Linked DNA regions of Homo sapiens: region 2 is linked to region 1. The links come from fine-mapping of genetic effects on gene expression. Tissue or cell type: pancreas. Region 1 holds a variant in brackets; the other region holds the start of a gene. All regions are shown on one strand. Distances are from middle to middle.

What was found. PIP is the estimated chance that this variant, and not a neighbour inherited with it, causes the effect.
Region 2: WDR45B starts here. The variant in region 1 is fine-mapped to the expression of WDR45B in pancreas (GTEx, PIP above 0.99).

What each region holds. Positions count from the first base shown.
Region 1 is chr17:82,621,340-82,626,339 of GRCh38, forward strand. WDR45B (WD repeat domain 45B) reads right to left here. Exons shown (of 10, transcript NM_019613.4): 5 at 4,050-4,144; 6 at 270-460. Among named protein-coding and RNA genes, the nearest start is that of WDR45B, 25 kb to the right of the region's middle. The variant C/T (reference allele first, on the strand shown) is at 1,908.
Region 2 is chr17:82,646,450-82,651,449 of GRCh38, forward strand. WDR45B (WD repeat domain 45B) reads right to left here and starts at 1,995. Exons shown (of 10, transcript NM_019613.4): 1 at 1,825-1,995. The coding sequence starts at 1,891. RefSeq lists silencers at 1,448-1,497, 1,508-1,557, 2,158-2,227 and enhancers at 1,640-2,139, 2,518-2,587.

The sequences.
Region 1 (5,000 bases):
ACTGCCCCTGGCCCTGTTTCTTTGGCTTATCATATTTTACAAGACACTGCTTTGTAAATAATTAGAAATAAAACCAGTCCCTGGGCACAAGACGACCTGTGAAGACTTCAACCTGTCTGATGACATGACCAGCCAGGTCCACAGGCCCCTGAGGGGCTCCAGGTTGGGGCAGGCCCACTGCCTTTTGAGTCTTGATACAGGGAATGGCCATTTTGCTGAGCCTGCTGCTCCAGGAGGCACAACACCAACAAGGTGAGTGGCACACTTACTTTCTCGGATGCAGTTGCAATTCTTGTTCCCTGCAGGTTGAGTGCAATGCAGCTCAGGACACCCTCGTGTGCAGGAATGTCCACGGGTGGCTTCTCCGTGCTGGCCAGGTCCACAAGCTGCACATGGCCCGTGTGCGTGCCCGGAAAGGCCAGGAGGGAGTTGTTACTATTGGGACAAAGGACACAGAGGCCTGCGTGGAGACAGAGGACACCAATCAAGAACTGCCTTTGATTTCTCACAGCCAAAGTCCACTTTCTGCCCCCAAAGTTCTCCGAAAAAATAGATGTATATCATTTATAAATATCAGAACCACAAATTCAATTTAAAGATTTTTCATTGTAAATAAAGAGTATGAGAGGGCTAAGCAAAGCTACCTCGCATGAGACCTCCTCATAATCAAGACATCTGCTGAACAACTTTACCAACTGTCCATCCATCATGGTACGCGCTACCGAAAATGCAATGCAAAATTAACGACTTTACCAACTGTCCGTCCGTCAGGGTACACGCCACCGAAAATGCAATGCAAAATTATAAAATTTAAAAGCTGCTCCATCAGCAACAGCGTAAAAATATTAAAAAACGGAGGAATAAGTTAACAGATGTACAAGACCTATCCATGGACTGTAACATCTTGCAAAGGAAGACCACAGAAGATCTGAGAGAGAGCTGGTCTTGTGATCGTGGGCTGGAAGATTGGCTATTACTATCTAACTCATCTACAGTCAGTGTGATCACAGCTAACCTCTCAGAAAGGGTTCTTGAAGAAAGACAAGCTGATACTAAGAATTATAAGGAAAAATAAAGGCACTGGAACAGCCCAAATTTTTTATTTTTTTGAGACGGAGCCTGGCCCTGTCACCCAGGCTGGAGTGTACAGTGGCGTGATCTCGGCTCACTGCAAGCTCCGCCTCCCAGGTTCACGCCGTTCTCCTGCCTCAGCCTCCCGAGTAGCTGGGACTACAGCCACCTGCCACCATGTCCAGCTAATTTTTTGTATTTTTAGTAGAGATGGGATTTCACCATATTAGCCAGGATGGTCTCAATCTCCTGACCTTGTGATCCACCTGCCTTGGCCTCCCACAGTGCTGCGATTACAGGCATGACCAAAAATTTTTTTTTTTTTTGTAAAGTAAGAAGATTGCAAGACTTATATTACCTAATTTCAGATTTACTTTAAACCTCTTATCAAGGCAGGATGGTACTGGGATAAAGACAGAAACACAGATCAATGGAAGAGAACAAAAAGTCCAGAAAAAAAACCTTGTATTTATTTAATCAAAACAAAGGTACCAAGCTTAGATATCCACATAGAACAGAAAGGAACCCAGGCGTGTGCCTCACTCTGAATACAAAATGTACTTGAAATGGATCGAAGATTTAACTTTAGATGAAAAGCTACCAAATGTGTAGAAGAAAACATAAAAGAAATCTTTTAGCAATACTTGCAAAAGTGTGCCAGGGAAAAGGCTAAATCTACAACATATAAAGAATTCTTACGGCCGGGCACAGTGGCTCACGCCTGTAATCCCAGCACTTTGGGAGGCCAAGGAAGGCGGATCACCTGAGGTCAGGAGTTTGAGACCAGCCAACATAATGAAACCCCGTCTCTACTAAAAATACAGAAATTATCCAGG[C/T]GTGGTGGCGGGTGCCTGTAATCCCAGCTACTTGGGGGACTGAGGCAGGAGAATCGCTTGAACCCAGGAGGCGGAGGTTGCAGTAAGCTGAGATCGCACCACTGCACTCCAGCCTGGGCAACAGAGCGAGACTCTATCTCCAAAAAAAAAAAAAAAACAAACAAAAAAAATGGGGCTGGGCGCGGTGGCTCACGCCTGTAATCCCAGCACTTTGGGAGGCCGAGGCAGGTGGATCACGAGGTCAGGAGATCAAGACCAGCCTGGCCAACATGGTAAAACCCCGTCTCTACTAAAAATACAAAAATTAGCCAGGCATGGTGGTGTGCCTGTAGTCCCAGCTACTCAGGAGGCTGAGGTGGGAGAACTGCTTGAACCTGGGAGGCAGAGGCTGCAGTGAGCCGAGATCATGCCACTGCACTCCAGCTTGGGCAACAGAGGAAGACCCCATCTCATATTAAAAAAAAAAAAAAAAAATTCTTACATCTCATTATAAGATAAACAACCGGCTAAAAAATGGGCAAAACATCTGGGGCACTTCCCAAAAGATCTCGAAAGGGAAGAACCACAGGGAAAGATGTCGCCACCGCCAGTCCTCAGAGAAATGCAAACCAAAACCACAAGGAGATGCCGTTACCAGTGAGATATCATCACACACGCACGGAACGGCTACAGCTAGAAAGACCGACAATGCTGGAACACTCATAAATCATGGATGAGACGCAAGGGGACACAGCCACTCTGGAAAATAAACGGCCGCATTTTATAGTCAGACACAACCACAACATGGTTGTGACCGGGCAGTCGAACCCTCAGGATCGACCCAAGAGACATGAAACTACCCACACAAAGGCTGCTATGGGAACATGCACGACACTCCTCCTTCCTAATAGCCAAAACACGGCCGAAGGGACCAACAAAGTAACACACATACACACACACAGAGGACAAATACATGTAAAAAAACAAAACCTGAGGGTTGAGTGGGGAGGGGACTGTCCCAAGAAAGTTTTCCAGGAGAAGAGACTGTTCTTTTTTTCTTTAGTCTCACTCTGTCGCCCAGGCGGGAGTGCAGTGGCACAATCTCGGCTCACCGCAAGCTCCGCCTCCCGGGTTCAAGCAATTCTCCTGCCTCAGCCTCCCAAGTAGCTGGGACTATGGGCACCCGCCACCACATCCAGCTAAGTTTTGTATGTTTAGTAGAGATGAGGTTTCACCACGTTGACCAGGATGCTCTCTATCTCCTGACCTCGTGATCCGCCCGCCTTGGCCTCCTAAAGTGCTGGGATTACAGGCGTGAGCCACTGCGCCCGGCCGACTGTTCTGTCTTGACTGTGACGGTGGCTACACAACTGTTTACAATGACGGAAATTTATTGAAGTTTTTTTTTTTTGAGATAGAGTCTTGCTCTATCGCCCAGGCTGGAGTGCAATGGTGTGATCTCGGCTCACTGCGACCTCTACCTCCTGGGTTCAAGTGATTCTCCTGCCTCAGCCTCCCAAGTAGCTGGGACTACAGGTGCCCGCCACCACGCCCGGCTAATTTTTTGTATTTTTAGTAGAGACAGGGTTTCACCGTGTTAGCCAGGATGGTCTTAATCTCCTGACCTTGTGATCCGCCCGCCTCGGCCTCCCAAAGTGCTGGGATTACAGGAGTGAGCCACCGCGCCCGGCCACAAATGGTATTCTTAAAACGAGTCAGTTTTTTGTAAATTTTACCCTAACAAAGCCAGAGGCAAAACCCCCAATATAAAAAGATATGAAGATGGTACAATAAATGACAAAGTCAAACACAATCAATCCTCCAATTCAGAAGACAAGGGAAGGAAAGGCTTGAGTCCAGAACTCAGTGGCTCCCGAAGTGGTGAAAACATAGGTTCCTGGTTCACTGTGGAGGTTCTGAGAGCCCATAGTCACTGGGTGGGAGGGGACAGGGGCCCCCACTCTGTGACTCTGGTCAGAAGGTAGTTTGGGGATGCTGAGCTGTGGGTCCTGGAAGGTCCATCTCCTCTGGAGGCCCCTCTGTGCTCAGGATTGCTCTCGCCAAGCACTTTGCTCAGAGACCTGCTTGGAGAAGGGAGTGCCCAGCACAGGCATCTCCATGTGGACCCATTTCCCATCGCCACCCGTCTGCTCAATCTCTCACCTTTGGGGTTATAGCAGGTTTCGAAGACGTGCAACTGATGGGGATTGTGTGTGAATGTGAACACCTTAATCATGGAGTCCAAAACCACCACAATTCTGGAAAGAAAAACATGATCAGAGTTGCTTTCCTCAAGAGTCAAACCCAAACATTTTATGCTCCTGTTCTTATCATACTGAAACTGAGAAACACTGAAAATACCACACAGAAAAGGAGTGTTCCTGAAGAAAAAGCTCTGGAGGCAGGTAGCCAGCGCCAGGCCTGGAGCTCGGCGAGTGCACGTGGGCTGGCTCTGCTGAGGGAGTGCTTCTCGCCTGGGTGAAGGTCAGCCTAAGAGACGTCTCTGAGGTTCAGAGAGACATCATCAAACACTCCATCTAGGTTCAGAACCGAGCAAAACAGACAGAAGTGATATTTTTATGCTACTGTGTCTGGAAAAAATAAGAAAAGTCTGAAAGTAGAATATCCTCGATCTGGCTCAAGCGTTTGCATTATTATTATTATTACTTTTTTTTTATAGATGGAGTCTCACTCTGTCGCTCAGGCTGGAGTGCAGTGGCACAACCTCAGCTCACTGCAACCTCCACCTCCAGTTCAAGCGATTCTCCTGCCTCAGCCTCCTGAGTAGGTGGGATTACAGGCGTGCACCACCATGCCCAGCTAATTTTTGTATTTTTAGTAGAGATGGGGTTTCACTAGGTTGGCCAGGCTGGTCTCTAACTCCTGACCTTGTGATCCGCCTGCCTCAGCCTCCCAAAGTGCTGGGATTACAGGCATGAGCCACGGTGCCCGGCCACATTTGCATTACTAAGGGCCTTTAAATATTGACGTTATTAAAATGACAAACCCACACAAAAATGCAGGAAAGTTGGCCGGGCGCAGTGGCTCACACCTGTAATCCCAGCACTTTGGGAGGCTGAGGCGGGTGGATCATGAGGTCAAGGGATCAAGACC
Region 2 (5,000 bases), 25 kb after region 1:
GCACTCCAGCCTGGGCAACAAGAGCGAAAACTCCGTCTCAAAAAAAAAAAAAAAAAAAAAAAACCCAAAACAAAAAAACAGCTAGAAACAAAAATAAGTACAAAAATAAAGTACAGAAGTAGGCAAAACTAATCTATGATGTCACAAGTCAGGTAGGGAGCATTTATTGGAATCAAGCGTGGCCAGGTATATTCAATTTCTTAATTGTTAGTGACAGGTGTGTAGTTTGGAAAATTCATCACCTGAACACTTATGATATATCCACCCTTCTACAGGTATAGCACACTTCACTAAAAAGAAGGCATTACAAACACCAGATGGTTGGAAACCACCCTCTGAGAAGGCTAGGCATCTCCCTTACCATCTCAGCAAAACTTTCTTCCGGAGAAACCCCAGCACACAACCCTGGGGAAGCTGGCAGCGCCCAGGAAGCCTGACTGGTCCCAGGGCATCAGGCATCAAAATCACTGAGAGGGAGTTCTTTCAAATATGTGTAATCCGGCCGGGCGCAGTGGCTCACGCCTGTAATCCCAGCACTTTGGGAGGCCGAGGCGGGTGGATCACCTGAGGTCAGATTGAGACCAGCCTGGCCAACATGGTGAAACCCCGTCTCTACTAAAAATACAAAAAGTAGCCGGGCGTGGAGGCAGGCGCCTGTAATCCCAGCTACTCAGGAGCCTGAGGCAGGAGAATGGCGTGAACCCGGGAGGAGGAGGTTGCAGTGAGTCGAGATCGCACCAGGCTGGGCGACAGAATGAGACTCCGTCTCAAAATGAAATAAATAAATAAATAAAATTGTCTTCACATATACGGGATCATACAGCACCTGCCTGGATTCTCTTCAAAAACAAAACTTCCAAAGCCAACATGTAAAGCCTCGCAGAAGCCTGTCTCGGAATAACGGACATTCCTTTTCCTCCCCATCAGGACCTTTGGGAAGCGCGCCCTTCAAATGGGAGGTGAGGAGGCAACCATCCGAATCCAGGTCCCGCCCGCCTCCCGCGGGAATCCGACCGCGCCGCCCCGGCCGCATCCCCCGCAGCTCCGAAGCACCTGCGGGGAAGGAGGTCACCTTCCCTGGGCGCTTTAAATCATCCAGTGCTTACACCTGGATTCCGACATGGGAAAAGAAGTAAGATTTCCCTCAAAGGCCTCCCTTAAGTCCTTTGACTCCACCAAACACGAAGAAAAATCCCGGGGAGTGGGGGTGGGGAGAGTGACATTTTCCGATGGAAACCGACGGGAAAGGTGAGACCTGCACCCCACCCGCGCCACTCGCCACCAGAGGCGTCGGAGACGCCGGCTCCGCGGCTCCAGTAAACCCAAGCGAAGTCAGCTCAGCCACGGGCTACCTACTAAAGACCCTGAAAGGAACAGGGGGCAAAACGGGGTTCTGGGCAGGGCGTCAATCACGCTGTGGGGAAAATCCCGATAACCGTGGAGCCCGCAGGGAGCCAGGGAACCCGAGTGGGCGTGGCGCGCGGGGAGGGGCGTCCGCGCAGGAGGCTGGGGTTCTGTGCCGTCTCCCACCGACCTCGACCTCGGCCCGGGACGGCCGGCTGGGAGCGGTCACAACCCGGGGGGTGGGGGAGCGCGAAAGGCCAGGAAGGTGGGAGCCGGTTCGGGCCTGGTCCGGACCCCGGCTCGGGCTGGGAGCAGCGGCGAGGGCCGGGGCCGGGGGCTTCGGAGGGGAGCTCGGGCGGGGCCGGGGTCCCGGGTGGAAGGCCTGGCCGGAAAGGGGCGCCCAGGAGAGGCCTGAGAGCCGGGGACCCCGGGCTGCGGGAAGGCCCGGCCGGGCAAGGCGACAGGGCCGCGCCTCCTCACCGTGGTCCTGGTTGAAGCCGGCGTAGAGCAGCCCGTTGCCGTGAGGGTTACACGGCAGGAGGTTCATGGCGCCGCCGTGCTGGGTCGCCGCTCCTCAGCGCTGCATGCCTCTCGCTGGGGACGGCGGCCTGGTCCCTTCGGGCCGGCGCTGAGGCCGCCGCGGCCGGAAGTGCCGGACGTACGTGCGTGCGTGCTGGATGTGCGTGTGTGCTGGACGTGCGTGCGTGCGTGCTGGACGTCCGTGCGCGCGCCCGCGCCCCACCAGGGAGCCTATGGAGCGCCGAGCGCATCTAACCGAAGCGAGGCGAGACGAGGCGAGGCAGGGCGGGGAGGGGCGGGGCGGGGCGAGGCGAGGCGAGGCGAGGAAAGGCGGGGAGAGGCAGGGCGGGCGGGGCGGGATGAGGCGGGGAGAGGCAGGGCGGGCGGGGCGGGATGAGGCGGGGAGAGGCGGAGCGAGGCGGGGCGGGGAGGAGGGGGCGGGGCGGGGCGGGGCGAGGCGAGGAAAGGCGGGGAGAGGCAGGGCGGGCGGGGCGGGGCGGAGGCGGGGAGGGGCGGAGCGAGGCGGGGCGGGGAGGAGGGGGAGGGGCGGGGCGGGGAGGGGCCAGGCGGGAGCGCAGAGCACGTTCGCGGGAGGGTCTGGCCTTGTCATGCGCGGGGTCGCCGCGGGAAGGAGGATGGCCCGTTGAGGGCTTGGCACGGATACCTGACGGTCGGAGGAAGGGGGGAGAGCCGGTAAAGGAGGCTGACCCAAAACTGAGGCCCGGTGCATCATCCCTCATGAGAGGCAAGCCCAGAAGCGCCACAATACTAGGGTCCCCCTTCAGGAGACAGAGACCCCCAGGACACAGAGGGCCCCCAAGTCACTCAGCCCCCCCAGGACACGCAGCTCCTGCAGGACGCAGAGGGTGCCCAAGACACACAGTCCCCAGGACAGAGACCCCCCAGGACACAGAGGACCCCCAAGACACGCAGTCTCCAGGACACAGAGGTCCCCCCAGGACACACAGTGCCCCCAGGACACAGAGGTCCCCCAGGACACAGCACTCCCAGGACACACAGCCCCCCCGGGACACAGAAACCCCCCCAGGACACAGCCCCCCTAAGACACACAGCCTCCCCCAGTACACAGAGTCCTTTCCAGGGCACATATTCCCCCAGAAGACACAGAGGTCCCCCTAAGACACACAGCCCCCCCAGGACACACAGACCGCCAGGTCACAGAGACCTTCCCAGGACACAGGGACCTTCCCAGGACACATAGCCCCCCAGAGGACACACAGCCCCCCCACGACACAGCCCATAGAGGACACAACCCCTTAGTACCCCACCTAAAGGACAGGTGGCCCTCACACAGCACAGCCCCCGCAGGACTCCGGGACCCTCAGGTCACATTGCTCACAGGGCACAGTTCTCAACTCTTAGGGTCAGGCTGCTGGGGGCATCCTGGTCACAGAGCTTTGTCCCTGGGCTTGGCTCATGCAGTGGATGGCTGTGGAGGCCTGAGTGCTGGCCCTCGTGTCTCTTGCCCAGGGAGTCCTCTCCACTCCCCCTCCTCACTTTCCTGTCCCCTCCTAGGCTCTCCCTGTTCCCTGCAGCACACCTGATCTCCTAGGAGGTCCTGACACTGTCCCCTCGCAGCCACCTGCCTCCACCCCGTCTGTCATCCTCATCCCACCCTCGCCACTTGCCTGAGCTGGTGCTGACCTCTTAGCCATGGGGAGGAAGGAGCTGGACTGTAAGCTGAGATCACTGGCCCACTCGGGCCAGGCGGTCTCCGCATCGTGGGCATTGAACACCTCGATTCCCATACGAGAGGGGCTCCTCCCTGAGAGCGACCAGAAGCCTTCCGATGGCGGAGCGAGTTGGGCCGCCCCGGCTGTGACTAGGGCTCGGGGGCCCAGGTCCAAATCACAGAGCTGGGGCGAGACCTAAGTGCGGTCCAGGGGCTCAGCACCCTCTTCCCTGAAGGGCACTGGGTTCTCCTCTGTGCACACGTACCGGTACCTGCTGTGAGAAGTGTCACGTGGGGGAAGGAGAGAGGCGTGGGTAAGGGACATTTCCCTTCATTTCTCTGCTTGCCACCCTTGGGGCCTCCTTCAGTTCACATTTTACTCAGTCTCCCGGTGGCTGTACAGCCGGGGGCGGGGGCATGTGTGGACATCCACACACAGCGCTGGTTGTATCCTAACCAGGAAACTCAAAGCAGCCTTGCCCACCACAGTGCGTTGAATGGTGACCCTCTAAAGATGTGTCCTGGGGGGCTGAGGAGGGAGGATGGCTTGAGCCCAGGAGATTGAGGCTGAGGCTGCACTGAACTGAGATTGTGCCACTACACTCCAGCCTGGGCAACACAGCAAGACTCTGTCGCAAAAAAAAAAAAAAAAAAAGATAGGTCCACCCAGAACCTGAGAATAGGGGCTTCTTTAGGTAAAGAATCATTGCAGAAGTAATTAAGGATCTCGAGATAAGATCATCCTGGATTTGGGGTGGGCCTTAAAGCTGGTGACCGGCACCCTTGGAGGAGACAGGAATGGAGGAGATACAGGGGACAGCAGCCAGTGGGACTGGAGTGCTCAGCCCTAAGTCAGCAAGTGCAGGAATCGTGGGGTCACCAGGAGCCGGGAGAGGCATGAACGGTTCTTCCCCAGAGCCTCCCAGCCTGGGAAGGAACACAGGCTGTTGTCCAAGCCACCAGCCTGTGGGGCTTTGTTCCAGCAGCTCCAGGAATCCCGCCGTCCACTGATAGCTCAGAGGTCTCCACGTGGAAGACCTGAAGTGTGACTTGGAGTGAGGGACACGGCTCATCTCGCCCACCCTTCTCCAAGGCAGGCAGAAAGCAGAGTCTCACCTCTGGGGGTGGAGAGAATAGAAATTATACACACACACACACACACACACGCATATATATGTATTTATATATATATGTATATATCTCCTGGGCTCAGGAGATCCTCCCACCTCAGCCTCCTGAGTAGCTGCAACTACAGGTACACACCACTATGCCAGCTTAATTTTTTGTATTTTTAGTGGAGACAGGGTTTCATCATGTTGCCCAGGCTGGTCTTGAACTCCTAGGCTCAAAGGATATGCCTGCCTCAGCCTCCCAAAGTGCTGGGATTACAGGCGTGAGCCGCTGTACCTGGCCTAACGATGTATTGTTTAAAGATACAACATAT